Homo sapiens: one gene and its partners. The protein of the gene in region 1 interacts with the protein of each later gene in a biochemical or structural test. Each region holds a gene or a part of one and is shown on either strand. Other genes may lie near its edges. The genes, in order: EDC4, DCP1B, DCP1A and NBDY.

The links.
Region 2: the proteins of EDC4 (region 1) and DCP1B form a complex in vitro, tested with the Homo sapiens proteins (one study listed by BioGRID).
Region 3: the proteins of EDC4 (region 1) and DCP1A form a complex in vitro, tested with the Homo sapiens proteins (one study listed by BioGRID).
Region 4: the proteins of EDC4 (region 1) and NBDY form a complex in vitro, tested with the Homo sapiens proteins (one study listed by IntAct).

Annotation. Positions count from the first base shown.
Region 1 is NC_000016.10:67,875,703-67,883,737, reverse strand, and holds part of EDC4 (enhancer of mRNA-decapping protein 4), read right to left. Parts: intron 7,794-8,035; coding exon 7,637-7,793; intron 7,251-7,636; coding exon 7,139-7,250; intron 6,866-7,138; coding exon 6,766-6,865; intron 6,522-6,765; coding exon 6,332-6,521; intron 6,230-6,331; coding exon 6,082-6,229; intron 5,998-6,081; coding exon 5,893-5,997; intron 5,573-5,892; coding exon 5,463-5,572; intron 5,379-5,462; coding exon 5,295-5,378; intron 5,203-5,294; coding exon 5,107-5,202; intron 5,002-5,106; coding exon 4,899-5,001; intron 4,782-4,898; coding exon 4,601-4,781; intron 4,502-4,600; coding exon 4,429-4,501; intron 4,327-4,428; coding exon 4,235-4,326; intron 4,152-4,234; coding exon 3,964-4,151; intron 3,889-3,963; coding exon 3,767-3,888; intron 3,676-3,766; coding exon 3,522-3,675; intron 3,182-3,521; coding exon 2,748-3,181; intron 2,663-2,747; coding exon 2,558-2,662; intron 2,474-2,557; coding exon 2,321-2,473; intron 2,242-2,320; coding exon 2,205-2,241; and 15 more. UniProt on the Homo sapiens protein: In the process of mRNA degradation, seems to play a role in mRNA decapping. Component of a complex containing DCP2 and DCP1A which functions in decapping of ARE-containing mRNAs. Promotes complex formation between DCP1A and DCP2.
Region 2 is NC_000012.12:2,001,000-2,009,589, forward strand, and holds the start of DCP1B (mRNA-decapping enzyme 1B), read right to left. Parts: upstream 3,459-8,590; 5' UTR 3,433-3,458; coding exon 3,283-3,432; intron 1-3,282. UniProt on the Homo sapiens protein: May play a role in the degradation of mRNAs, both in normal mRNA turnover and in nonsense-mediated mRNA decay. May remove the 7-methyl guanine cap structure from mRNA molecules, yielding a 5'-phosphorylated mRNA fragment and 7m-GDP.
Region 3 is NC_000003.12:53,282,929-53,288,543, reverse strand, and holds the end of DCP1A (mRNA-decapping enzyme 1A), read left to right. Parts: intron 1-260; coding exon 261-479; intron 480-883; coding exon 884-964; 3' UTR 965-5,115; downstream 5,116-5,615. UniProt on the Homo sapiens protein: Necessary for the degradation of mRNAs, both in normal mRNA turnover and in nonsense-mediated mRNA decay. Removes the 7-methyl guanine cap structure from mRNA molecules, yielding a 5'-phosphorylated mRNA fragment and 7m-GDP.
Region 4 is NC_000023.11:56,723,868-56,731,953, reverse strand, and holds the start of NBDY (negative regulator of P-body association), read right to left. Parts: upstream 2,712-8,086; 5' UTR 2,601-2,711; coding exon 2,394-2,600; 3' UTR 2,365-2,393; intron 1-2,364. UniProt on the Homo sapiens protein: Promotes dispersal of P-body components and is likely to play a role in the mRNA decapping process.

The DNA of each region.
Region 1 (8,035 bases):
ACTTACCTGAGCTTGAGGTCAGTTCGAGTGCCAAGGTCAGATGCCAGCTGCTGGATGAGGGAAAGGAGCACAGGCTGGGAGAGCGGGCAGGGTGGCTGCCCAAAAACCTGGGCTGGGTCCACAGTTTCACACACATACAGCACCAGGTTCAGGTCAGCAGCTGTCAGCGCCTGGAGGAGAAAAAAGCAGCAGTGTTTATAGCAAATATCAGGATGGAATGTCTGCTTGTCTGAACTGTGTGGCCTGGGGGAGGATGACCACAGGGTGGGCTAGTGAGAGCTCCAGAGGGACTCAGAGAGAGCCTGTAGGGCTGTGTAGTTACCCTAGGGGATTGGGAAATGGGTTCCTGAGAAGGGTAGTTGTAAAGCAAGGTGGGCTAGGTGGGAAGAAAGGGGTCCAGGAAGAGGAAGCAGCAGGGACAATGGCCTGGAGGCCAAAGGGAACCAAGAACAGTCTGCTGGGGCCAGAAGGTGCAAAGGTGGTGGGTGGAGTAGAATGTATGGTATGTGGGCCTTGTCAAGAGACACGTGACCCTTAGCAGGGCCTAATGCCTATCGTACCTGCTGGAAGGCCTGATTGAGGTGGCCCTGCTGCAGCAGCTGCAGGATATGGGCTTGCTGGGCCTGGCAGTCAAGGTGGGCAGAGGGGACAGGTGTGCCAGCAGCTGAGCGCATGGCCTGCATGATGCTGGAGGTGACGGCGGCCTGCTGCTCCTTGAGCGCCACACTCACCTCACCCTTAACGATGCGCTGTACCTGTGCTAAAATGGACTCCTGCAGGCTGCAAAGGGAAGTGAGTGAGGTGAAGTGGACAGGGAGCCTAGTCTGGCCTTTCTCAAGCCCACCACCTTGCCCAGTACTCTGCCCACACACCTGCCCACAGCCACATGCAGCTGGTGCTGCACCTCAGCACGAACACTGCCGGCCACGGTGGCTGCCATCTGCTCAGTGGCACTCTGCAGTGTGCTGACCAGGCCCCGCAGCTGGGCTAGCACAGGCTCCCTGGCCTCCTGTTCCCGTGCCTTCCGGCTCTTCATGTGGCTTTCTAGCTGCTGCAAGTCTGAGGGGTGACCACAGGGACTATAAGAGGAACAGTAGGAAAGAGGATAACCCCTCCCACCTTGGGCCATATGACCCCACTCACATTCCTGTGTCCCCAGCCGGAAGCTATCATTGATTTGCTGGAACATGGCCTGGCAGCTCTTCTCAAAGGCCGGCAGCACCACACTCTGGAAGGCTTCCCGGTAGGCAGCCTGCATCGGCCCTTGTAATGTGTCTGCAGCTGCTCGGGCGATGGCATCAGTCAAGTTCTGGGGTTAGAGGGAGGGGCCAAGTTGAAAGCCTGAGCCCAGCCTGGCCTGACTAGGCCCAGGAACCACCACCTCCACCCACATCTTGGGCCCTATAGCACCTTGGACTTGAGCAGCTTGGAGATGTTCTCTTTCATGCTGCCCTCCACAGCTGTGAGCTTGGTAGCCACTGAGTTGCTCAGTTGGCCTGCCATAGGCTCCAGACTCCTTGAGACACCTGGGAGAGGGGAAGAGGGTGAGGTGGAGCCATGAGAAGAAGCTTGACAGGTACCCCACTCCCACCTGAACCACCCAAAGGGAGTCTGCATGCAAAACTCACATGGAGGGACTGTCTTCTTGATCTCATCCCGTATGCTGCGCTCTAGCCGCCCAGCTACAGCTGACGACAGTGCTTGGGACAACTGTTGTGTCAGCTGCTCCTGCAGCTGCCCTCCCCGCTGCTGCCCCTCAGCCAGTGCTCGCTCCAGCCGCCGCTCTGCGCCATAGCTAAGGAACGGGCCTGGAGCAGGTCGTGTACTCCTTCCCAGGCCAAGAATGCTGCCCCCGTCCCTATGCCATGTTGTGCTACCAGTCTCAAGGATACGTTCCTGCTCGTGCCGAGTCTCAAGGGCACGTTCTACGTGGCCTGTGACTGTGCTCTGCAGGCCTTCGAGTTGGGTACACAGACGCTGCAGCAGCTCTTCCTGGCTGTGCCGCAGCTCTGCCAGCTCTCTCTGCTGTTGCCAAATTAGTGCTGGCCAGTCCTCAGGGGGCTCTGCCACCTGTCAGTAGCACTGACAGTCACACGATGCCTGCCCCACCTATTCCCACACACCAGACCAGGGAATGGCCCAGAGCCCTTCTCCACCCGCCCAGGGTGAAGTTCCACAAGTACAAAGTGGGCTCATTCACTTACCTGGTGCTCTGTGAGCCGGGATCCCATGGCTGCATCCCTGCCATAGGCGAGAAGCACCTCAGGCTATGTGAGGCAGCCTAGAGACCACCCTCTCCCTCCCTAGGATTTCTCCCTACCCATCATCCTTCTTGCTTTTCCTCTTGAGCTTGGGTGAGGTTCGAGGGGATCCCTTGGTCTTCCAGTCCTTGGCAGGCAGCCGTGGAGCAGGAACTTTGGTGCCAAAGCCTCCTGAAGCAGAGGCAAGGCTGGCCACCTCATCATCATGGTCACTGTGGGAAGGGGAAGGAGGAGTAAGCCCCTGCCCACTTGCTGCCCATCCCCCCATGAGGGCAATGGTGTAGAGTGGCTCCCACCTTTGCTCAGCACTGGCATCCTGGCTGTCACGTTGCTGCAGCAGGTGATATGGTGGTCGGTGGAAGGCCAGGCTCTTGTGCTTTTCCTGAAGGCCATTCCTGGGGCTGGGAGGACAGGCCAACTTAGCCATGGATGAATCTATCTGAAGCCCCTCCTGCTAGCACACTTTTCCCCTCCCAAGCTCCTCACCTTTCTGCCAGGGTGCTGCAGGTCTCACGAGTAATGTCAGGTGCTGTGGGCCAAACCTGACTGTCAGGAGTCGAGGCCTCCTGGGTCAAGGCTGCCTCCAGGAGGGAGGGGGTATTATGCCGATCTCCATCCCCAGGGCCTCCATCAAGCCCGAGCTGGGGGCCGAGCTCGGGCCCTGGCCGGGGCCGTGGGGACAGCAGGTGCAGTGCCGAGGCGGCTGAAGCCATACTGTCTGGCTCAAGGCCCTCTGGTGCAGAGGAGCCAAAACCACGGGACAGGGCCTCAGATGCAATCTCAGGGATGTCCTGGGACAGGGCAGTGGAAGCTGAGGAGATGACATCAGGGGAACGAGTGCGGCTAGGGGAGGCTTGGGGTAGCCCCAGGGGCTCCACTTCCTGCAGCTCCAGGGACAGTGCAGAGGTGGCAGTAGGCACCTGAGGTGGGCCAAAGATGGGGGCTTAAGTGACAGGAAGTGAGGCAGAGATGGGGGGCACAGAGACGAGGCATTAGTATTAGCAGTAATGAGAGACAGGGCAGCAGGGAAGTGGGGATACAGGTCAAAAACGAGGCCACAGCCAAGAAGAGGAGGTGGGGACAGGGAGGCTGAGGAGACACCCACCAGGAAACACAGGAGGGTGAAATGACCTCAGGGAAACACGGACCATGTCGGGTAGAGCAGGATCAGCAGCAGGGGGCTGGGAGGAGCCCACCACCCACCTTCCCTGCTGCTGCCCACCTGCTCCCCACACTTCACACACACACCCAGTCACACACCTGGCCCGGCCCCTTGGGAGTCAGTTTGTCAGCTGGGGCTGGGAGCAGGCCAGGCAGGAGGCCACGCGGGCTTGCCTGAAGGCTGCCACTGCTGCTCATTGTCAGGCTGCCATCCAGCTGCAGCTTGGGGCTCAAGGTCAGCTCCTCAGGTGGCCTGGTGGGGGAAGGCTGAGGTGTCAGCAGCCAGAGCTTGGCATCATCTGGTACCAGCCCCTGCCATCCTCCATCTCTGACCCTTGCCTCACCTGGTCAAGGAGGGGTCCACAGCTGAGGTGCTGCTCATGGCAGACACAGCTGTAAGGGAGCTGCTGCTACTGCTGCTGCTGCTGCTGCTACCGCTGCTGCTGCTGCTGGGAGAGGCAGTGATCTGGGGAGATGCAGGAAATAAGACCTGTGGCCTGTGGCTGAGGCATTCCCAGGTCCCCCTACCCTGGGAGAGTACCTGCTGCAAGGAGGCGCTAGGTGTCATGAAGGCGTCAGGTGTCATCAACTTGGGCTTGGTCTCACTGCTCAGACTGAGGAAGTCGGCAGGTGCAGGCAGCTCCACGATTCGTCGGAGGTCAGGCTGGGAGCCGTGAGCGGCTGACCCCAGGCCCTCAGAGCCCAGTTCGGGCCGAGACTCTCCAAATGCTGCAGGGCAAGTTGCCACTTGAGTTAGATCTCAGACCCTGGTCAGTCCAACTTACCCTACCTCCCTCTCACGCCCTACTCACTGAAGTCCTCGTGGGCAGTGTGGGTGGGCAGTGGGGCCACCACATCAGGGTTCAGCTGTGGCTGGAAGCGGATCTGCACATCTTGCAGTGCCCTGCAGGAAAAGAAGGGGGAGAATAAAGTGCTCCAAGGGCAAGGGTCAGTAGAGTGGAGACAGACACAGACAGGACACTGGCGGGCCTCCCCACTCACTCACTTAGTATGCACACAAAAGAGCTTGATGAGCACACCGGCCGCAGACTCCATGGCACCGGCTCCATGGGTACCATCTGAAAGGACAGTGTGGATGATGAAGCCCCTGGCCCTCTCTGTGCCTCCACAACCCCCTAGATATATGGACACATAGCTCTGACCCTGAGGCAGCTCACCAGCACCCAGGCTGTCATTTTCCTCTTCGGCAGGCAGCACCTCAGTGTGCCGTAGCCGGCAGCGACTCACAACCTGGATACCAAAGCTCAGCACAGGGTGGGTGAGCAGGAACTCCGAGATGGAGCTGAAGCAGGCGTGGCCCTCCTCCTGGTTTTGCAGCAGCTCCATCACATAGAGGACCTGCACAGGCAGAACGTTCCTAGCTGAGCTCAGAGGCTAAGGGCTGTGATGCGCCACCTGCCCCCCGGCCTTCCTCTATAATCCCAACTCTGCCCAGGGTACCCCATGGCAGCCTACCTTCCGTTGCACATCGCTGAGAATCAGGTATTCTGCTGAGAGGTCCAAGCAAACCTTGAGGCTAGGGGGCACACTCACTGAGCTGAAGATATCTGGGGAGAAGCTAGAGAGCCACAAAGCAGAGTGAATGAGCCTGAGAACTGAAGGAAGCTACATTCCCAACCCTGCCGCCCCTGCCCAGTCCCCCAGCCTTCCAGCCACTGCTTACCGAATAGTCTGCAGGCAGGTCCAGGATACTGTACACCACATCTTTAACTCTCGGTTCTGGTCAGCACCAGTAATAAGGAACCTCCAGAAAGGGACACTGCAAGGCAACAAGGCAGTGAGTGACTGGCTGGGGCCCCTGCTGGGAGCCATGGTCCAGCCCACCACCCACTAGGCTGCCCACTCACTCACTCAGGGTCTTGTTTCTTATGGTTGTCACAGAACAGGAGGCAGGAGAGGGGCCGCCCATCATGAGGTTTCCACTCGTGCAGACACCTGCAGGTAGGCAGATGAGGGGCCTGAGTGAGTGGTCGGGTGGGCTACCTCGGGAGGATCCTGGTCCCTGAGGCCCTGCCTTACCTTGGCTCATCTTGCCCCTCAATGTAGATCTGCCAGAACTTGACATAGCCATCGTGGCTCGCAGTAGCCAGCACAGTCCCATCAGGAGAGAGGGCTCCTTCACTGAGGCACTAGAAAGAACCCAAAAAGCTTTGCTGACTAGAGGTGAGAACAAGCCCCTCCCAAGTGAGGATGGCAATGAGCTGGGCTGACTCACGGTGGGACTGGCATGCTTGTGTGACTGACTAAATGAACAGGGTTCCTAGAGAAGGCCAGACCTGCAGGGTGCTGCTAGATAAGGAGAAAGCTGCACAGGTGAGGGCCAATTTGAGCTCAGAGTCCCCACGGGCAGAATGCTAGTAAAGCTGCCCGGGCAGCTGTGGATATAGGGAACAGAAGATGGATATGAGGAAGTGGGGAGGGCAGGGGAGGCAGGCAGTCACAGGCTTACCGTGCTATGACCTTTTACCACAATGAAGCCCTGCTTGATCTGGCTAACATCCACAGGCCAGGTACTGTGGCTGGAGCGGAGCATGTCCAGGTCCCACACCTCAGCCTGGAAGGCACAGGGAGGTGAGTGTGCAGCCCAACCCCACACTATGGCTTCTCTGGCGCCTCTTCGCCATGTCAGCCCCCTCACCCGGTCTTCATGCAGCAGGGCCACTGTTGGGCTGCTCTCCTCACAGCAGTCTTCGCTCTCCTCAGGGATGAAGGGGCACCAGATGATCCTGCGAAAGTGGTTCAGTGGCGTGCCCTCTGGCTGCCGAATATGGACCAAGATCTCTTCTCTGAGCAGGGTGTTAAGGGCTAGATAGATGAATGAAGAGGCGTGACACCCCAGCTCCGCCCACCCTTCTTCAGTCCCACCACCCACAGGAAGGAATGGATACTGAATTTTGCCATTAACCAGAGCCAAGCGCCACACGAACAGGTTGCCTGCCTCATCCAGGCAGGCCAGCTGTGGAGAGTTGAGGTGCGCGAAAGCCAGATCAGCCACACTGCCTGTGAAGCCCTTGAGCAAGGTCCGCTCCGAAGTGCTGACGCTGATCACCCGCACCATGGCAGAGCCATTGTTGGCAGCTGGAATCAGGAGAGCAGTGGACCATGAATACGTATCCAGGCTCAGGCAGTAGCAGAGAAGCGCTGCCCCACCTGTCTCCCTGCCACCACCAGAGTCTCAAGCTTGGTTTTCCCACCCAGCTCCCCAAGAGGCAGCATGGACAAACCTTCCATTGTACCCCTAAGGCCTGAGTGGCCTGATGTTGGAACTGGCTCTGTGGGACATCCAGCAGAACATTCCTTCCTCCTCACTGTCTTTACTCACCCCGAATGGCATAGGCCAAGAAGGAGTTAGACACAGCAATCAGGTTGCCATAGTAGTACTTCTGTTCCCAGTCATACTTGGCGACAGGCTGAATTTTCACCTGAGAACCCAGGGTGAGAAAAGTCATGGAACTTCCCCAGAGCCTAGGTGGCCCCCAACATCCCTGGGGATGGGAGAGGACACAGATGCAAGTCCAGCTACCCACTGTTACCTCCTGGAGCCAGACTCCCACAGAGGCTTGGCACCCAGCCCTGGCTTCCTGAAACTGGGAAAGTGTCAAGGTGGTCCCCATAGGAACTGGCAGCATGAGGGAGACTGGAAAGGCTGGGTGTGCCCCCGTACATTATATATGCCACAGCATCCCAGTACCTACCTTGTTGCTTCCCCGGGCCTTGCTTGAAATGCTAGAGTCACTGCTAGCCACAATCTCCACCTCCTTGGCCAAAATCCCAATGCAGGTGGAGCTATCATCTCCTGAGAGACAGCTGTGGGGAAGAGTGCAAAAACTTTGCCTCTTGTTCACCCAAAGGCTCAGCGGGCAGGGTTGGGAGGAAGCGAGGACATAGCCAGACTGGGGAAGGTATCTAGTCCAATGTCAGCTTCGCCTGGTCCACTGGCCCCAGACCCACAGCTCTGCTTGCTCATCTCCTTCCTTGGGAATGAGCCTACTTTCATTCTAAACCAGGTATCCAGGCCAAACCCCTGAGCTTGTCCTTGCCTCTCATCCTAGTGCAAGCTCAAGCTCCACCCCAGGTCATCTAGAGAGGAAGCAGCAGAGGCTGCTGGCCCCGCTCACTCCCCATCTCATGCCTTCAGCTAGCAGACACCCCAAATACACCATCACCACTATTGTCGTCTCCTAGGTACTCACATGACCTGCTTCTCTTGCAGGTTAATGGGTGGCATGGTCCGAAGACCAGTCTTGTTTGCTGAGGTACTATCACCTGAGCAGAGCGGGTCTGGGACCAGAAGTCCATTGAGGTCCCCATTGTAGGCACTGGATGGCCGTGGGCTCTCTGCACTGGGGCCTGGGGACAAAGAGGGTCATTCTGATAAGGTTGCTCGACCTGCCCACAAGCCTCTCCCCTTTCAGAGTTTCCTTCAAGAACTATGAGGTGCTCTAGGAACACTCAACTGAGCAAAGCATGTCCATGAGGAGGAGGGCCCTGTGTTCATCTCTCGTTCCATAAACACTGATGTAGGCAGGACCAAGGATGAGCATGAGGCTCTTCTACCTGGGGGAGGGGTACAAGCCATCAAGGACCCTTTG
Region 2 (8,590 bases), on another chromosome or scaffold:
GCACTCCAGCCTGGGGAACAAGAGCGAGACTTCGTCTCAAAAAAAAAAAAAAAAGAGAGATAATCAGCTTACACTACTCAGATCTTTTGATGAAAAAACGTCAGGCGCTCTATGACACCTGGATAAAAGAGACTTTGAAAATATACATTTCTGTTCTATTACAGCTGCCCAAATTCACGCATTTTCCTGGCCCCTCCATAGTTATCCAAGGGCAACCAGATTTTTTTTTTCTTTCTGAGCAAAGTCCAGGGTTAGGGATGTGGAGAATAGCTAAAACAAGATTAGATGTTCCTTAGATCCTTTAAGGAGGACTTTTATGTGAAAGTATTAGTTACCAGTCCTGGGGTATTTTAGCTTAAATTTTAAAAGTACAATTTGAGGATTTAATATTATACTGTATTATAAAATCTAACAAGTGCTAAAGAAATAAGCAATTCAGAATTCAAAATACTAAAAAACCCAAAATGGAATATAAAATAGTGCTGTTTTGCAAATTTTGGGGACTCTGCACACTGTCTGACACAAACTAGCTCAACGCAATCTCTATTTTAACTTGATTATTCTCAGTTAAAATAATCAAAAAGTAGGTCTCAACTTATCCTCCCAAATCTCTCTTCATCATGCATGTAGCACGTGAGTCACCTATGAGGCTTTCAACAATATGAAATGCCTGGGTCTCATTATCCAGAGGTTTTAGTTTGGCATTTTTCACTTTTAAAAAACTCTGACTTATTTGGATACACCAAAAACTTAGAAAACCACTAGCTAGGAACACAACGTTAGTCACTTTAGGGCAGTTTTCAGGCTCAGCATTCCCTGGCCTCTACTCTATAGATGTCACAACACTCTTCCCTTCAGTGTGACAACCAAAAACGTCTCCAGACACTGCCAAATGTCACCTGGGGGCAAAATCAACTCCAGCTGAGAGCCACTGGTCTAAGGACTGACAGCTGGAAAATACCAGGGTTATGGTCTTCAATTGACACATAGGTATTAATATTTTGGAGGCGGGGGGCAGTCTTTCCTGGCAACAGGGAGTAGGTCTAACTCTAAAATTCCTATTCCAGTCATCACATAATCTTTCTTAATCCTTCTTTAAAGCAGTTCATTTTCTAGACACCTTTCCTTCCTAATTTCTCCTCCTTTGAAAGGCTGAAGTCATTCTTCATCCATTTTCAGGGCAATAAGAATTCCCCTCCTTAAGATCCCCCCTGCCTTCTTGTAAATACTTTCTCCTCTATTCTCAACAATGTTCTCATATTCTTATTAGGTTTACATTCAAACGGCTCCCATCCACAGTGACAGCACATGGAGACAGTGGTCATAATTAGTTTGCCTCCAGCAACTGCTCTGCAGTTGAACTAGGTCTCTCTGTTTTTCTGGCTACCACAGCCTTGAAGATTAGAACTTTGAAAGAATGACCTTTTCCTGAATGAATTATGCCCTGTCTGAAGGCAACATATCCAGCAAGCAGGAAAACATAACTCCTGTAATTAATGCATTGTGACACATCTGCTTTTTGATGAGGCTTTAGGTATCTAATAAACATCTGTAACTATCTTAAAAAGGTATCTATCACATTGATAAGGGTCAAAAGCCTATAGGAAACAACTATTATTCAAGAGAAATGCTCTACTCTCTTTATACTGACAGTTTCTTGGGATTCTCCAGACTCGAATCCCAGTGTCAAGTCAACTTACAGAACTATACATCCCTGGTCCTCATCTCTCTACTACGGAATTACTTTTACAGGATTATAACATTATACCTTTAGCATTTTTCTACAGAGCAGCAAAATAGCCATATGTAGAATATCTTTTTATATATTTTTAATTACCATGGAGGAAACTGTCTATGTTGCTCAATGTTCTTTATGTAAAAACGAAGGTGACACCTCGAAAAAACAAACAAACAAAAACAAACAAAAAAAGTAGGTGACAAATTCCCCTGGAAACTAGGGGGAAATAACCTCTTTCTCCTGATCAAGAGGTACACTTTCTATTACAGAAGAACGAATATTAAAGAGCTCTTCCTGTTCTCCTTTTGTGTTTGGCTACTAGGAGAGCAGACCTAAATTCTTTGCCCCATTCCGGCAAATTTCCTCCGTTAAGAACTTTGGGCAAAACTGTTTGTCTACCCCATTCTTGCTTGTCTTTTTATTTTTATGTTAATGATTTTCAGGTGAGTTTTTTACTACAGGCTGCTGAACTATACTGCAGATAAGTAGGCTTATGAATGTGGGTGTTAAAAAAAATACAGAGTTGTTCAACATGGATGTTTTCCTAGATTAAGTTTTGATGTTTATACAACCGACTTGAAGAACACAAAAAGTTTATCTGAAATCCATTCATCAAGGCTAAGTTCTCCATACTGTTTTGTAACTTATTTTAAAATGATGGATATCATGTATGTGATACATAATGGATGATGAATATTATTTGGACAAAACTCATTATGAGTAAAGAAACAAAATTACATGTCTCTACATTCGAGTGGGTGGGTTACAAAATTACAAGCAGCAATCCCTGCAACAGGATTCCAGTGTTCTAGGCTTCTACCCCATTCTAACTATGAGGAAAATGAAATTTCATTCCATTACCATTTACTGGGACTCTGCTTTGAGAAGAGCACTAAAATAATTTGGCTCCCAAATGACCTCCAATATCGAACTTGGTGTGCTGCCGTGTAATAATCTTCCCAAGAGCATCAGCTTCCTTCTAAGTGTTAGACCCTGCCCCATTTTGTCTTTTATTTGACGAGGTTGGCTCTTTTCTTGGTGTTTCCCCTTAAGTTTACAACTTGCAGATTTCTCCCCTTCTATCAAGTTTTGATTTCTCTTTGCCCCATCTAAGACTGACATTCCAAAATCAGAACTCTGCACTTTTATTCGTCTGCTGTCCCTGCCTCCCCCATAGCCACAGATTCACTGTAACAGAACTCTGCTCTACTTTCTCGAGCACATCGGTCTTCCGGCCATAAGGTATCAGGTCCTTCCTTTCCTTCGGCTCTTATGGTGCCGTACCCGATCGGTCTGGTCTCCCAGCGTTGGGTACGTTAGAGATTTAAGTCTTTTCCCCAACTCCAGGTAGCTCCACAGATCCGCCTTCCTTCCCCCAAACCCCCGAGACCCCATCTCCACAACTTCGGCCTCAGTCCCCAGATCCACCCACTTCCAGGGCGTCAACGTCTCCTCCCCCTCACCGGGTCCTCAAGTCCTGAGTCTGACGCCCCCCGCCTCCACCCCAACCCTGGGCTGCACTGCTCCGCCGCGTCCGCACGCACCCACTCGTTGGCCCGATGGCCGAAGGTGTACAGAGCCACCTGGCTGGCCACGTCCACGATGCGGTTGATATAGGGGTCGTGGCGCTGCAGGGCCGCTAGGCTGATGTCGCGCCCCTTTCCCACCAGGCCGCCTGCCGCCACGGCTGCCATCTTCCCTCCCTCCCAGACATAGGCACGGGGCTCTTGGAAGCCACTCTCAATAGATCGCAGAACGAGCGAGCTGCCTCGCAACCGAGAACCCACGGCGACCACACGGCCCGGGAGGCCTTCCGGCTCCAGTCACCCCCACCCTCCTGCCCGCCGACAGACGCAAGGCCTCACTAATCGATGGCCGCGCCCCGCCCACTGAGGATCGTTGCCACTGGCAACGACAAGCCCAGGCCTGCCCTCTGCATCCCGTTTCTTTCTCCAAGAGCTGTTTTTCTACGCGCTCGAGCCTTTGAGCTGTGTGTGCGGTAGGATTTCCTTCTTGGATGTGTTCGACCCCTTGGCATATCTTTTCTTTGGCGCTTCAGTGATCAAATCTATCACAATAAATAAGCCTCGAGCATCAAGAACTCTGAAGAGAAAGAGAACTGAATTGATTTCTGAATGCGCTAACACCCAGTGGTTCTCAAAGTGTGGTGTGGTCCTGGAACCCTTTGGGAGTTTCTGAGACCCTTTCAGGGGATCTGCAAGGTCAAAAAAAAAACAAAACCTTTTATGACAATGCTGAGACTTACTTATTTGACTTGTTCACTGTGGTGACGTTTTGCAGACAATGGTGGTTAAAAGCGCCGGTGGTTTAACCCAATCAAGGCAGGGGCACCAAACTGTATTGCTAGTCAAAGTACGCGTCACTAATCTGCACTCTCAGTTACAAAAGAAAAAAAAAAAAAGAAGAAGGTAGAGAGCCAGTGTCACCTGATGGTGTTCTTGATAAGCAGTAAGAATTATTAATTTCATTGAAGCTTAATCCTTGGGTACAATTCTTTTTAACATTCTGCATGAAAAAATAGGAAATAGGCATAAAGCACGTCTGCTGCAAAATGAAGTGTGTCATATTTGTCTCTAGGAAAATACTTCTGTGCTTGAGTTGTAGGCCGAATTCATGTTTTTATTTTTATTTTCATAAAACATTTTTACTTGAAAGAAAGATGGGCAAACTATGATTATTCAAACAGGTACTTGACAGACATTTTTCTGAAAATAAATAAAGTGTGCCTGTCACTTTCAGGAAAACAAGGGACAATTACTGCTGCCAATGATAATTTTTAAGCCTTCAAGCCAGAATTAAAAGTTTAGAAAATGTGTATCTACTGCCATGAGCTTGACATCTCAGTACTTAATGTTTTTTTTTCTGATGAGATCAGTGATGATATTAATGAGCGCAATTTTAACAAATCTTGTATAATGGAAAGTGTCAATATCTCAAAGATCTGCTTAACTCAGTGGTCCAGTATTTTCCAAAAGACCAATGTCTCATGCTACATAATCATGCACAGGCAAAAGATCCATTCAAGGACAAGGTGGACTAATGGATTTTTAATGTAACAGTATGAAAAGTTAATAGGATTTCAGATAGTACATTGCAGCTAAGCTTTGAGAAACTCCAGCTTGTCAAGTTTTGGTATATTATCCAAGAAGAATATCCACAATTGTCTGAAAAACTCTATTAAAATATCCATCTCTTTTCCAACTACATTATCTACATATGAGGCCAGAGTTTCTTCATATACTCCAAACAAAACACACATAGCCCGGGGTCTTTAAAGTTATTTTTAATTTCCAATATGGTAAATATAGGTGGGTATAACTCACATAAACAAAAGTTCTCTGAGGGAGTCCTTAATAATTTTTAAGAGTGGGCCAGGTGCGGTGGCTCCTGCCTGTAATCCCAGCACTTTGGGAGGCTGAGGCGGGCGGATCACAAGGTCAGTAGTTCAAGACCAGCCTGGCCAACATGGTGAAACCCCGTCTCTACTAAAAATACAAAAATTAGCCAGGAGTGGTGGCAGGTACCTGTAATCCCGGATACTCGGGAGGCTGAGGCAGGAGAATCGCTTGAACCCGGGAGGCAGAGGTTGCAGTGAGCCGAGATCCTGCCACTGCACTCCAGCCTGGGTGATAGAGCGAGACTCCATCTCAAAAATAAAATAAATAAAAAGTAATTAAAAAAATAATTTTTAAGAGTGTAAAGGAGTCTTGAGACTAAAAAGTTGAGAATGGTTGATCTAAACCATTTATCTAGCATTAAATATTAGAACAACTGTGCAGACATTACTACTCACATTCATAAATTCTTACCTATTTGATATAGAAATATCATAGATACGGCACACATACCCTCTCATAATAATATGTTGCAATATAATCTTTGCAGTCACAATTTCAATTGTACTGAAATTCTTGGTTAAGCTGCATTTTGGAGTCTCAGTCCTATTGACTCCCAAGCCTAACTTCCCAGTGGGGAAGAATACAGCAATGGCTTTCAAACAACTTTTTTTTGACTGAGGCTGGGGTCATTTGCAGTCTGACTGAGAACATATGTTTATATATTTATACCTGATATTAACTAGAATAAATGTTTCAATACTAAGTATACAGACATTTTTTAAAATGCTATTTGTGACTTTGTAAATTGGTTTCATGACCAACTAATGGATTGTGACCTGTAGTTTGAAAAACATAGGGCTGCAGCAACTGAGCAACCACACAAAGCTGACTAGACAACTTTCCATGTTAGTTCACTACCTTTTTCCAGTGTTACTGACCTCTTTGCTCTTAATCACATATGTGCTTCTAAAAACAAGTTTAATCTGTAATATGGGCAATGGAGAATTTTGTGATTAATTCTTGAACTAGTCACACTCTCTCACTTGATTAGCTGTTCTAATTTTGATTTTTCAGCATGAACCCACAGATTCTACTTTGCATTTCCCTCGTACATATAATGAGGCATTGTTTTTCTTTTGTCTGTTAAGTTCCATGATCCTTACACAGATCATTGTCCTCATAATTTTTCAGTCTTTCCATCTTTAAAGTGTAAAGAATAGATCATGGCCTCCAAAGAACGAATTGCTTTGAGCTCATTAGAGAAGACAGGCAATATAGGGGCCATTGTAAAAGCTTAAATGTTCATAAAACAAAAGTGTATACAAGTCTTAGTGATCTGTATGACTACAATTGCAAAGCATTTATGGAGTGCTCACTTGATGAAATTCATTAATTCTTCATGATTTATTATTGCTTCTTGTGTCTGTGCTGAAATTACATGGTCATGTCTTCTCCAGTCTTTGATCTCACTGATGAGTAAGATGAAGATACCCTTACTTTGCTTACGGGGAAAATTTCACATATGTGAACAACATGCTAATATGACCCTTAGTAGAGAAGAGTTAATTTTTTGTGTGTTTAGAGTTAATGAAACAACCCATCTTCTGTTCTAACCTCCTTGTATCTGAACTCTTTTCTCCCAAGTATCTTACACATTCCTATCTCTGTACCTTTGCCCATCTGTCTTCTTAGCTTGGAATGACCTTTTCCTGGAAAACTCACCTCCTGTCTTCTCCCATACAATCCTTTCAGCCTATGAATCCTCATTGCATTCTGTTGCGATTTTTCTTGTGGCACTTAGCTCACTTTATCCTGACTTAGACTTATTTATTTACTACGTTACATATACATTTTTTTCCAATTCTAAAAAAAAACAGTCATTGTAATAAAAGAGAATTGTTATAGAAAATCTAGCCTGAAAACATTATTGCAATTGAACAAGAAATTGGGCTTTGAGTTTCTTGACAGATAAGCAAAAAGGAGGAAATAGTATGTTTCATAAAGTTTTACTTATTTATTTATTTATTTATTTATTTTTTGAGACAGGGTCTTTCTCTGTCGCTCAGGCTGGAGTGCAGTGGCACAATCACAGCTCACTGCAGACTTGACCTCCTGGGTTCAAGCACTCCTCCCACCCCAGCCTCCCAGGTAGCTGGGACCACAGGCTGGTGCCACCATGCCCGGCCAATGTTTTTTATATTTTGTAGTGATGGGGTCTCACTACGTTGCTCAGGATGGAGATGTTATTTTTCATGTTTTGTAGTGATGGGGTCTCACTATGTTGCTCAGGATGGAGATGTTACTTTTTATGTTTTGTAGTGATGGGGTCTCACTACGTTGCTCAGGATGGAGATGTTATTTTTTATGTGCTTATCACCACGTAGTCTCCCTAGCACTTGGTCCAATGCCTTGTACATAATAGAGATTCAATAAATGCTTATTCTTTTGAACTAAACCCTGAGTTAGTTGAATTTACTCATTAAATGTCAGCATTTTTTAAAGAGCTCATGATTTATAAAATAATGAAATCCAAGTTGGGATAAAAAAACGTGCAATAGCAAGTCCTGTTCTCTCAGATTTTATATTCTAAGGGAGATAGAAAAACATGGAAAGGTTTTTGGTTTTTTAACTTTCAAACAAAAAACTCTTGAAGATTAGAAATCATACTCAGAGAAAAAAGATAAATAATGTTGCAATGACTTCAGCATTGCCATATTGTTCATCTCCCTGGCCCACAGAGATTTATTTATTTTTTATTCTTTTTTCCTCCCCACAAAGGCCTAAAGCTCTGACCTTCTAGGATGACGCCAGCCTTCTGCCTTCTTTCTATTTGAATAATCTGTGTTTGTAAAACCAGGTCATCATCACTTAACCAAATATACTAAGTTGCAGGCTCGATATTAGTAAAAGACCATTTCGAATAGGCAAATTCTTTTTTAATCCGTGTAACTTCCATTTCTGTTGGCGCCCAGAGTGCTGGCGTACTTCCACTGTGTTTCCATAAGCCTCATGATGATACCTTGGACAAATATTGGTGACTTCGAGTTTCATGATTATATTATAATTGTCATTATGAGATTAAACATATGCTCACACTTGGTTTTACAAAGTTGGATACTGCAATTTAAAACAAGTTTGTAGAATGATAAAAAAATAATGTTTGGGTCTGGAATTTTTATACCATGGCAATGACTGAGTAAGACAAAATTCAGCATCTAATCAATTAAGGTAATTGTAAGAAGACAGTATGTTTAGATTCTTTGAAAATCAGAATATAACTGAAAACTGGTTTTGTAGGCATGAATGAATGTTTGCATACAAATATAGATTGACTATATCATCACAATTTTAAAACACAAATACACAGTCTGCTTTATTAGTACTCTTTTCTTTGTTGTGTAAATACCCTCTAAGTCTGGCATTTGTCCTGTAGTAGAATATGTTAGAATGGAGAGGAAGAGAGGAGCTTTCAGGATGCCCCTAAGAATTTGTG
Region 3 (5,615 bases), on another chromosome or scaffold:
CTGTGGTGGTTGGACTTGGCTTCCCGTAATGATTCTAGGACATTCTTACATAAATGGGCTGGTCATCCTTTAGCTAATGGAAGTTTATAACCAGATGTCAGATGTTCACATGTTCCTACTGAATGTTTACCTGAACTCAAAATAGTCTGTCTCTGTGCTCCACTCTTCTGCTGCTTATGCCTGTTTCCACATGGTCCCTATTCTGGGCCTGGCTACTGGCTTCTGCACTTCGGTACAAAATGACCATTGTCACTCTCCAGGTTGCAGGCGCCCCACTGGTTACTGCAACGACCACTGCAGTGTCTTCAGTCCTGCTGGCCCCAAGTGTTTTCCAGCAGACAGTTACAAGATCTTCGGACCTTGAGAGGAAAGCCAGCTCCCCTTCTCCTCTAACTATTGGAACGCCAGAAAGTCAGAGAAAGCCTTCCATTATTCTCAGCAAGTCTCAGCTCCAGGATACATTAATACATCTAATAAAGGTATGTAGGATACCAATTTTATCTTTGATTTTTCATTATTTAATGAAAGAAATTTTATAAATTCCTCTTACAGAATCAGTTCATAAAGTAAATTCAAAAGACTAGCTGGAGGCCAGGCAAAGTGGCTCACACCTGTAATCCCAGCACTATGGGAGGCCAAGGCAGGCAAAAAAAAAACAAAAACAGACTAGCTGGGAGTACTGTTTCTCTTTTTTTAAGCATACAGTCCTGGTGGAGAAATATCTGCATGAACTCAAAATATTAATCATGATTGTCTCTGGGTGGTGGGATTATCAGTTATACAAATCATTTATACAATTTTTTTCCTAAGCTGTTACCAAGGAAGTAAAATCTGATGAGGTAAATGTGGCATTCGTATCCTTAACCTTTACCATCTCTTCTAGAATGATTCCAGCTTCCTCAGTACACTTCATGAAGTCTACTTGCAGGTTCTGACCAAGAACAAAGACAACCACAACCTATGACTGGAGCAGAATAAGTCTAAAGGCAGAGCCCCAGCCTCAGAGACAAATAGGCTTCATCATGGAAACTTCTGAGCAGAACATTGAGTTTGAGAATCCTGAAATTGAGCCTATGAGAAAGAGACTCATTTCTTAAGAATGTTTTCCAAGTGACATTCTCAGTGATAATGGAGGTTTCACTGTGAAGCATCACCAGCAGATCCTTGTTTTGACAAAAAAAAAAAAAAAAAAAAAAAAAAAGAGAGCGATCATTGTGTTAAGTTATGTGGGTGTTTTCATCAGCTAGGAGCAAGGCTGTGGAATAAGGAGTCAGATTCTCAGCTTGCTTTCACTTTCAAGGACTTACAGAGGAGTAGTCACCAGCCTCACAGCAGAAGTTCAGCCCGGCCCCCACCGCTTCCCCCAGCCTACCCCATAGAAACGGGCTTTGGGCTGACAAGTCAAGTTTTGAACAGAGTAGAAGGCAGCTCTGCAAAGTAGCTTCTAGTTTTTAGGACCAGAATTTAAGCCGGCAAATTAGGAATTATTTCCTCAAGTGAAGTATATTTTATATGAATGCCCCATTTGGGCCTTAAAAGTTGTGAAATTTCTTAATAGCATTTTGTTTTTAAGTGCCCCAGTCCTGCCCTGCAGCAGGCCCCCAGTGCAGCATTACCATTTGAATAGGGCACTGTCAGGCTCTGGTGGTGTGGACACAGGCATGTCATACCTTTGAAGGAAAGGCTGGGGCTGGGAATGCCCACATCCTATCAAATCTTCATTTTAGGTTAAACTCTCCATTGGTTCTGAAAATGCTAAGTTTGTGTGTGAAGCACAGCCTTATTTTCCTTTTCTGTCATTGTTGATTGTTTTCCTTAACACTTTGACAAAAGGACCAGTGGACCAATCTGACAAAGCCATTCTGGTTCCTTTCCTTGAGTGTACTGAGAATAGTTTTAAAGCTATGCAGAAAAGGGAGCTGTTATTCACACTGCCCTTATTTTGTTGTAGAATTATGGAGTTAAAAGAAAATGTGATTCCGAACTCTACCAATGTATTCCTAGGCTGTGAGTACTTTCCCGGCCCAAAGTGTGAAAATATGTAAAGAAGCTTTGTTATGCTGCTATTGATCTGCCATGATTTCTATTTATTCTTTTATGGCATGTAATGGTGTTTAGTAATATTTTAATGTAGATTTTGATTTATTTCAGCAATAGTAATTTTAAGATATTCTTTGAATGAAAGTGTCTTCGTTTCTATGATACAGGTCATTTTGTAGTATTTAACCAATTAAGATGCACTGCTTACTTTTCTGAGCACTATTTAATGATGGGGTAAAAACCCAATTGGCTCAACCAGCTAGCATAAGGATTAGCTGTGAATAATGCTGACAGATATGATGGTTCCTTAGGAACAATCATTTAAGCTTTAATGGTAACTCAATCATAAGTCCATAGATTATTTTTTTCTAGCTAAAATTTTAGAAAATTACTTGTGAATTACATACTTGTTTTAGTTTGGTCTTAGTTTTTAGCATAAAGAATGATTGGCTTTTGTTGATCTAAACATGCTTCCTGGACAGGGTTTCTGCTTCTCATTTTAGTGTCTTCTATTGCTGTCTACCTAATTATGTGTGAATTGTGCAGAATTCAGGGAAGCTTATAAGTTTTCATGCTCAATTGTGAATAGTTTGTTTTCACAGATAGTATGTAAATTAAGCAACCAAAAATGAATTCCTTATGCATCATCTGGGAACGAGAAAGCTATAGTGGGATACAGAGTGTTGCTGACACCGGGAGATGGTGTCCAGGGAGCCACGTGACTTCCATAAAGTGGACGCACCAGTAGGTGTGATTGCACCTCAAGTGTAGTCTCAGTGGGCTTCGGTGAACAGACGAATCAAGGGATTCTTGAATCGAAATTATGCTTTTGAGTATGTAATATTATGAGAGAGTTAAGAGAGAATATCCTAAAGAGAGTCTGTGATCATACTAATTTTCACCTTTAATGCTAGGAATGGATATGATAGACAGTAAAGAGCATCTATGATAAGGCTTCCTTAGTGTGAAAGTAAACTTAAGTGCCCAAGTCATGGAGACTTGAAAAGGGTAAACCTGTTTCACCTCCCAAATTTATATATTCAAAGTATTTACTTAAAATTCAGAAGCCAGAAGTTCATGTCATGATTACCAGGAAGTTCAGGCCAGAATGAATCCCTAGAGAAGCCAGGCCAAGCCTGGATAATTGCAGCTGGATGACCCTGGCCCGAAAGTCACAGTTCAGTTGCCTTATTCCTAGTTCAGGCTTACTATCTAGAACCTCATGCTAGCTTAGGTTGCATGTTTACATTGCTGCAGTGTCTTTACTGGAAGCTTAGTTGGATCGAAATGGACACCGAGATGGAGATGCTTCTGGCTAGATTTCGCAGAACCCCAGGAGACCTGCATTTAGACCACTCTGTCCATTTGTGTGCCCACCCCCACCCCCAGGGTCTAAGTGTAGACTCCAAGAGGAGCAGCCCAGAGCTTGGAGGAGAGGTGTGTCTGGGGCACCACTGGTGGGTGGTGCTGCTCTTCTTTTTGTTGTAGTTAATGCGGTGTCTTTTAATGGACTCTCAGGCCTCCCAGACAGCCTTGTTCCTTTAAGGCAGAAGCTCTTCTTCATTGTGTACCTCCTGGGATTCATGAGGTGTGAGATTTGGCCTGCTTGACTTTGAATTCAAGTTTTTCAAGTGACTCTCAGTGTCAGAAGAAGCATTTCATGCTGTCCACATGTGGTATGTCCACAGCTCACCTTCAAAGGCTTAGATGTAGCCATCACAGAGAGTGGTATTTTATTAAGAACCCAAGTCCCAGCCTGACCAACATGGTGAAACCCCATCTCTACTAAAAATACAAAAATTAGCCGGGCGTGGTGGCACGCGCCTATACTCCCAGCTACTTAGGAGGCTGAGGCAGGAGAATCACTTGAACCCGGGAGGCAGAGGTTGCAGTGAGCCAAGATCACACCACTGCACTCTAGCCTGGGCGACAGTGAGACTCCACCTCAAAAAAAAAAAAAAAAAAAAAAAAAAAAAAGTCACGCTGGGCCCCTCTCTACAGGGGGACACACAGGCTTAGTTTAGTATATGTCTAACCAGATTTTGCATGTCAAGCATTTGTCCTTTTCCTGGCTTATGTTTTCTTGTAGAAATTATATAAACCCTATCAAATCCACTACTAGGTAAATTTTTAAACCATGCAGCTTTATTACTCTCCTCCCCCAAAGAATGTAGTTTGAAATTTTCTCATTTCCATAGTAGAGGCCCTAACTGCCATTGTATTACTAATAATGCAACATGAAATTGAAGGTGCCTAACTGCTCAAAAAACAAAATCAGCCATCATACTGTAACTCTGAGAGGAATGAGAGGTGGCACAGGCACGAGTGGGCTCAGCCCGTGTGAGTGAGGAGAACTGAGGAATCCTAGGGTGCGCATCCTGCATCCTGGCTGCACGTTTGCTGCAGAGTATGTTTTTCTTTCTTGCCTCCCTTCAGTTTTCTTCAGTTGCGTTCAGTGTATCTTCTGGAACCAATAGTGCCCTGTGTTCTCAAGTCTCTAAAATGCTAAGATCTGAGCAAAGTCAAGCAGCTTACACTAGGCTTTTTTACAGCTGTGCTTGAGAACATTTCCGAGTGGACCAGGGCCTTGAGGAGCCTGTTTTTCAGCAAATTCAACAGATGTGTGCAGTGATTCCCTCCGTTTTGTATTTGACACCTTCATTTAAAATGCTAAGATGCAATATCATTCACTTCAAAGTGGGGAAAATGCAGAATTGTGTTTCCTTTTTATCTGTGTGATTCCTTAAGAAACATGTTTTTAAAATATGTGTTCTAAATGGTTTTTTATTCTGTATTACTGCTTTGGCCATGTGGCTCTCATGACTTTCATTGTACCAGATTCTCAGCTCCCTGAAACATGGGGACGAGAAGCTCTGGAATTACAGCAAGATTTTTGTTCCATGAGCGCAATACTGTATCATTAACATTTTTAATGGTATGGATTTTATAGCATCTGTGTATGTTTGCAAATATTAAGTTATTACATGTTTTAAAATGAGCGTTTTTCATCTTAAATTTTATATGTTTGCAAATATATTTTTTTAATAAAATTTCAAAACCAAGTTTTAGCACCTACTAAAATTTAATTGTGTTTTTATTTAATTTGTAGAAATAGGGACTTTTGAATGAGTTGCACTTTTGCAGAGTGCCATACTGGTGAAATGGGATGAGGCAAAAAAACAGAACCGACAAAACTGTTATCAGATCCTTTTGTACTTCTTAAGCATAAGGATTAGGTGTTCACACACAGGTGTGAGATGGGCCATCCTGAAACATTGCTACAATGTCGGCATATTACCTGTCTGACACAGAGAAAAAAGAAAACTGTTATCTACCTGTTTCCAGCCTGTATAGTCAGGGTTCTCCAGAGAAACAGACCTGAGAGAAGATAGAGTTATGTACCATGTGATATTTCAGTCAACAACAGACCACATTTATGACAGTGGCCCCATAGAATTACAACCCTATTTTTACCCGACCTTTTCTGTGTTTAGATACACATATACTTATCCTTGTGTTACAGTTGCCTACAGTATTCGTACAGTCACATGCTGTACAAGTTTGCAGCGTAGGAG
Region 4 (8,086 bases), on another chromosome or scaffold:
TTATTCCTATAAAACAGTTGTATACATAGTATTAGAAGGGATGTATTATATAGAAGTTTAGAGCATAAACTCTGGAATCAGGTGTTCTGGGTTCAAAGCTCAGCTCAGCTACTTCTTGCTGTGTAACTTGTGGCAAGTCATACAACTTCCCTTGGTCTATACAAACTTCTCTAGTAGAGTTGTGATTAAATAAATTATAACATGCAAAGCCCTTTAGAAAATTGGCACATAAATCTTCAGTAAATATTGGCTATTATTACAATTATCAGTGATTTGAATCACTTGGAGGGGAAATTATGTAGCTACTGCACTTATTGTTTTGTTCTTTTGTTTTCTTTTCTTTTTCCTTTTTATTTTTTAAAATTATTTATTTATTTATTTTTTACACCGAGTCCCGGTCTGTCGCCCAGGCTGGAGTGCAGTGGCATGATCTCGGCTCACTGCAATCTCTGCCTCCTGGATTCAAGCGATTCTCCTAATTCAGCGTCCCGAGTAGCTGGGATTATAGGCACACAACACCATGACCGGCTATTTTTTTTTTTTTTTTTTTTACTTTTAGTAGAGATGGGGTTTCGCCATATTGGCCAGGCTGGTCTCGAACTCCTGACCTTAGGTGATCTGCCCACCTCAGCGGCACAAAGTGCTGGGATTACAGGCGTGAGCCACTGCGCCCGGCTGCTCTTTTGTTTTCTATCTGAGCAATTTTCTCCCTACTCCCTGCAACCTTCCACTCCACTACCCCTTTGAATAGAGGTAAACATGTGAGAAGTAAAACTGTATGGAATGACAGGGAGATGCTTTCAAGTAAAATAGATTTCTATTTTTTTTTTTCTATGCATTACCACCAAACCCAATGTCTAAAACTTTTTTGGTCGCCAAAGTTGTCCCATCATTCATTGATTTATTTATTGAAATATCTGTTTCACTCCTATTATGTACTAGGCACTATGCCTTGGCCATCCATCCCCTACAGCTCTCAGAATAATTCCTACCCATTGCAAGGGCTTCATAAAGGTTTACTGCACGAATGAAGAAAAGATGCTTCTCTCCTTTGAATTAAAAGGATCTATAAAACTTGGGTCAGATTCAGTTTTATAATTTGCATTCTATAAAGTTCATCTAAATATCAGAGATTCCTTTTCTGATAGTAAGAATAGGAATCTTAAAATACAAATAGTAGCACTTGATGGATATTGGAATGAAGTATATGCTCAGCATAACATTTAAGGCCCTGAAGCACTTTATCTTCACCTCCTAGTCCTTCTTGTAGATTCAAAATTATAGCCAAGCTGTTTCCAGAAGAATTCTGCCTTTTCTCTGGAAACCCTCGGCCTGAAAAGCATTCCCTGCCCCTCCACATGGCAGATGTCACTCAACCTTTAAGGCCCACCCAAAGTTCCTCCTTCCTTTTTTTTTTTTTTTTTTTTTTTTTTTTTTTTTGAGACGTAGTTTTTTGCTATTGTCGCCCAGGCTGGAGAGCAATGGCGCGATCTCGGCTCACTGCAACCTCTGCCTTCCAGGTTCAAATGATTGTCCTGCCTTAGCCTCCCGAGTTGCTGAGATTACAGGCGTCCACCATCACGCCTGGCTAATTTTTGTAACTTTAGTAGAGACGGGGTTTCACCGTGTTGGCCACGCTGGTCTCGAACTCCTGACCTGATCTGCTCACCTCGGCATCCCAAAGTGCTAGGATAATAGGCGTGAGCCACCGCGTCCGCCCCCCTACTCCTCCTTTTTGATGGCTCATGATTACTACCAGGCAGTGACTTGGTCCATCCTCCACCCTTCCTGAATACCTTGAACAAGCAAACATTATGGCACTTGGATTTGACTATCACATTGTAGCTTTAAAAAAAAAAATTCAACTCTCCTGCCTTACACAGAGAAAGACATACACTTCTGAAGGCTGGCCTTCAACAGATGCTTTTTATTGGCCTTGAACCAGCCTTTTTTTTTTTAACAAAAAAATTTTCCAATGCACGCAAAAGTAGAGAGAATAATATAATAAATCCCTACATATACATCACCCAGCTTTAAATTATCAACTCATGAGCATTTTTATTACACTTTCCCTCCACCTTGGCACCAATGACTTACTTTCAAGCAAATCAAAAGATTCAAGTCTATTTCTTAGAAAATATAACTACAATTATTTCATCTAAAATATTACAAATAATTATTTAATGTCGTTAAATATCCATCATTTCATTCAAGCATATTTTGTGAAAGAGCTGCTTAATCCCTGCATGTTATTTTTTCTATTTTGAAATCATGGAAAGAACAGGGAAAAGGGGAAGGAAATTTGTGAGAATGCATAAATAAGTTTCAAAGAGCCTAGATGTCCTAGATGAGAAAGAATCTGACCTGGTTTAGGGTGGGAGAAATTTATTTCTCTACTTCTCCGGAGGAGGAGGGTGCGACTTCAGGCCGGCTGATGCAGGAGGAGGTGCGGAGGGTAGAGTGGTACTACCTCCGTTGGGAGTTCCTTCCGGATAATCCCAACGCGGAGCGAGGAGGCAGCGCTTTTTTGGAGGCTTGGCTTCCCGTGCGTTTCCAGGTGGGAGAGTGGATCTCCCGGAGGCACAAGGTTGGTCTCCCATAAGGATTACAGAAACGGGTCGTCAGTTTTCTCCGGTGGGCCCTGGCAAAGCCAAGAGACCTGAGATGGCGGCGAGTCCCCTCCAGGCACAGAGCTGGCTTCCTCCTGTTTCGCTCTTACCGTATTTCCTGTATCCTGAGACGTACATCCCTTCTCCGCCTCCACCCCTCCTCCCTACCCCATTCTATTTTAATGTTTCTATTAGGATGGGTGTTAAAAACCGATGTCGTTATTTAATATAGTGTTTTTCCATCGCGCCCCACCCCCACTAAATGTAAATAAATTTATTGAGAATTTAATATAATTTATGCAATTTTAAGATGAGAAGAAATTCAAGTTTACCTTTAAGTGGTAAACTCTGAATGGCTTATATGTGTGGGAGGGACGCGGGGGTGGGCGGTAACCAAATAAATTATTGAAGAGCTTTACAAGCCAGCTGCAGATGCACATCACAGAGCTGTGAAACTAGCTACAAACATTTAAAAAGCAATATGCAAACATGTAAGTTGACTAGAGTGCAGAATAGCACACTAGCACAAACCATGGAAATTGAATGTGGAAAATGAATTCACCGTATGTCATAGAATCTAAGATCATTTTTTCTTTATTTTTTAAGCAAATTTGTAATTTTTGAAGGCTTATTATGTTTTTCCCCAAATTTGAATATCTAGGAAATCTCTGCGACCTAACAATTGATGGTACACTATACTTTAGTTGGCAGCTTTTTTTTTTCTTTCTTGTAGGTATGGAAAATAATGACCCATCTTACTAGTGATGATATGTTATATTCTATGATTTATGGTAACCAGAAGAAAGTACCACGTGTCTCAGAAGAAAAGGCTTCTGGAACTTCTTAGACCTTCATTATTAAAATAGCCTACACATCCATCTCCCTTTAGCTATGGACAAACTAGATCACACTTCTTCAGCTTTGTTCTCAGTGCTTTTTGTTTGTTTTTTGTTTTTTTAAATGGAGAGAGCTTAGTCCTTAATGCCAGAGTAGAAGTGCCTGTTAAACTCTGCTGTTTACAAGCTCTGAGCTCTTTGAGTAATTATTTAAATTCTTGGAACTTTGGTTTCTAGGCCATAATTTTTTCCTTGCAAAGGTGTTTCCATAACCAGGGATAATACATGTAAAGCATTTACTACTATAACTATCTCTTATCTCCACCCTTCTACCTTCCTCCAAGTAACCAGCACAGCCCTTTACACAAATTAGGTACTCAGTAAATATTTGGGAAATAAATGACCCCGTGGTTTTGTGCCAAATGCTACTAATAAAGACAGAAAAGTCAGATGTAGCTGTAGCTTAATGAAAAGATGTGAGGGAGGCATTGAGAGAGGCAATATTTTAGAGCTAGAAGAGTAGTTGGAACTAGACATACTGATGTGGGAGACAGCAACATAGAGGTGATAGTTAAAGACAAGGGAATGGATTATATCCCCAAGAGAAAATCTAAAGGAAAAATAATTGAGCTAAAAACAGAATATTGAGTAATTAGAGACAGATAGAAGAAAAGAAGTCTGCTGCAAAGGCTGAGAAAGAGTGGTCAAAGTCAGCGAAGAAGATTCTAACCCAGAGTTTCTCAATCTTGGTGCTATTGACATTTGAGGCCAAATCAATCTTTGTAGTGGTTGCCAGAGTTTACCGTTTAGCAATGTCCTAAGCTAAGCCTCTACCAACTATATGCCAGTACTACTCCCTACTCCTCAAGTTGTGATAACCAAAAAGATTTCCAAACATTGCCAGATGTCCCCTCGGGTACACAATTGTCCCCAGTTGAGAACCATTGGTCTATCCTTAATCCACCAAATTTGCTCCTTTCCTAGTTTTTTTTTTCTTTCATCTCAGTGAAATGTTATGCCTTCCACTCAGATATACAAGTCAAACTTTGGAGTCTTTATTTTTAGAAACTGAAGAATATTTTATTATTTATTCAAGTAAATGAAGTAACAATTTCACAGTCTTTTTACATAGGTCTCTAAATCTTCACGACTAAAGACATTAAGAGTTGCAGTTAAGTCGTTCTATAGCTATAGTTTTAGCAAATTAAGAGAAATATGTGCCTCGTTAGTAAAGTAACAGGAATTAAAAATTTTATCAACTCCAGCTAGGTTTAATTTACGGTAAACATTTGACTTGAGGTGAAAACAGTCCCAACTTAGAGTTGCTTCTATCAACATTGACTATTTATACCACAATTAGATTTATTTATTTATTTGTTTATATGCTTTGTGGTAAAGCATACATAACATAAACTTTACCATCTTAACATTTTTTAAGTGTACAGTTCAATAAGGTAAAGTATATTCTCATTGTTGTACAACCAATCTCGAGAACTTTTCCATACCTATCAAACAACTCTCCATTTTACCCTCCTTCCAGCTGCTGGAAACCACCATTATACTTGCAACTGGAATTTTGTTTGTTTTCATTATATTAAAACGGAGATCTAAAGCCTTTATTATTCCAGGTTTCAAAACAGGTTTTTTTTCCATCATCTTTTTTTTTTCAACATCAGTGAACCAGCTGAATGTGAATCATGAAGCCAGAAGAGGGCACTGTTAGGTTGGAGGAACATAGAGGCCAATTTGAGAAGTGCTACAGATCCAACTCTCATAATTTACAATGATCAAAAGATGACAATAGAAAATAAAACTAAACCCACCTCTGAGTGATAGTAAATGGTTTTCATTTAGTTTTTTAAATTGAGAAGTTGGGTGATTAATTTGATTTCTTTTGAAAATTAGCTTTTCTTTTTAAAATTTTCTTAATTTTTAAATTTTTTTATTTCTATAGGTTTTTTGGGGAACAGGTGGTATTTAGCTACATGAGTAAGTGCTTTAGTGGTGATTCGTGAGATTTTGGTGCACCCATCACTCGAGCAGTATACACTGAACCCAGTTTGTAGTCTTTTATCCCTCATGCCCCTCCCACCCGTTCCCTGAGTCCTCAAAGTCTATTTTATCATTCTGATGCCTTTGCGTCCTCATATCTTAGATCCCACTTATGAGTGAAAACATACGATGCTTTGTTTTCCATTCCTGAGTTATTTCACTTAGAATAATACTGTCCAGTTCCGTCCAGGTTGCTGCAAATGCCATTAATTCGTTTGTTTTTAAGGCTGAGTAGTATTCAATCATATATATATATATACACACACACACACACACACACATACATATATATATAACAATATTGTTATATATATATAACAATACATATATTGTTATATATATATAACAATACATATATTGTTATATATATAACATATATTGTTATACATATATTGTTATACATATATATAACAATTTTGTTATACATATATATAACAATATTGTTATAGTGTATATATTTATACATATATGTGTATATGTTTATACATATATATGTATATATTTATACATATATATGTATATATGTATAAATATATATATGCATATGTGTCTATATACCCATATATGTGTATATGTATATATACACATATATGTACACACATATATGTACATATATGTGTATATATACATATATGTGTATATGTGTATATACATATATGTGTATATGTGTATATATGTATATATGTTATATATATGTGTATATATGTGTATATGTGTATATATGTGTATATATGTTATATATGTATATATACATATATTGTTATATGTATATATAACAATATAACAATATTGTTATATGTATATATAACAATATAACAATATTGTTATATGTATATATAACAATATAACAATATTGTTATATGTATATATAACAATATAACAATATTGTTATATGTATATATAACAATATAACAATATTGTTATATGTATATATAACAATATAACAATATTGTTACACACACACACACACATATATATATATATGTATAACAATTTTGTTATCCTCTCGTGTGATGGGCATTTGGGCTGGTTCCATAGTTTTGCAATTGTGAATTGTGCTGCTATACACTTGCATATGCAAGTATCTTTTTCGTATAATGACTTTTCCTCTGGGTAGATATGCAGTAGTGGGAGGATTGCTGGATCGAATTGTAGTTCTTCTATTAGTTCTTTCAGGAATCTTCACACTGTTTTTCATAGTGTTTATACTAGTTTACATTCCCTCCAGCATTGTAGAAGTGTTCCTTTTCAATGGCATCCACACCAACGTCTATTATTTTTTTGATTTTTTGATTATGGCCATTCCTGCAGGAGTAAGGTGGTATCACATTGTGGTTTTGACTTGCATTTCCCTGATCATTAGTGATGTTGAGCAGTTTTTTATATGTTTGTTGGCCATTTGTATATCTTCTTTTGAGAATTGTCTATTCGTGTCCTCAGCCCACTTTTTGATGGGATTTTTTGTTATTTCTTCTTACTGATTTGTTTGATTTCATTGTAGATTCTGGGTATTAGTCCATTGTCAGATGCATAGATTGTGAAGACTGCCTCCCACTCTCTGGGTTGTCTGTCTACTCTGTTCGCTCTTCCTTTTGCTGTGCAGAGGCTCTTTAGTTTAATAGTCCCACCTATTATCTTGGCTTTTGTTTTAATAGTCCCACCTATTATCTTTGTATTTAGTCCAACCTATTTATCTTTGCTTTTGTCGCATTTGCTTTTGGATTCTTGGTCATGAATTCTTTGCCTAAGCCAAAGTATAGACGGATTTTATCAATGTTACCTTCTATATATATACATTTTTTTTTTTGAGACGGAGTTTTGCTCTTGTTGCCCAGGCTGGCGTGCAATAGCGTGATCTCGGCTCACTGCAACCTCTGCCACCCGGTTTCAAGCGATTTTCCTGCCTGAGACTCCCGAGTAGCTGGGATTACAGGCATGCGCCACCACCCTCGGCTAATTTTTTGTATTTTTAGTAGAGAAAGGATTTCTCCATGTTGGTCAGGCTGGTCTCAAACTCCCGACCTCAGGTAATCCACCCACCTTGGCCTCCATGGTGCTGTCATTACAGGCGTAAGCCACCGCACCCAGCCATCTTCTAGAATTTTTATAGTTTCAGGTCTTAGATTTAAGTCCTTGATCCATCTTAATTGGATTTTTGTATAACCTGAGAGATGAGGATACAGTTCCACTTTCCTACATGTGGCTTGCCAATTATCCCAGCACCATTTGTTGATTAGGGTGCCCTTTTCCCACTTCATGTTTTTGTTTGCTTTGTCGAAGATCAGTTGGGGGTAAGTATTCGGGTTTATTTCTGGATTCTCTATTCTGTTCCATTGGTCTCTGTGCCTATTCTTATACTAGTACCATGCTGTTTTGGTGACTGTGGCATTATAGTATAGTTTGAAGTCAGGTAATGTGATGTCTCGGGATTTGTATTTTTTGCTTAGTCTTGTTTTGGCTATGTGGGCTCTTTTTTAGTTACATATGAACTTTAGAATTGGTTTTTCTTTCTGTGAAGAATGTTGGTGTTATTTGGATGGGAATTGCGTTGAATTTGTACTTGCTTTGGCAGTATGGTCATTTTCACAA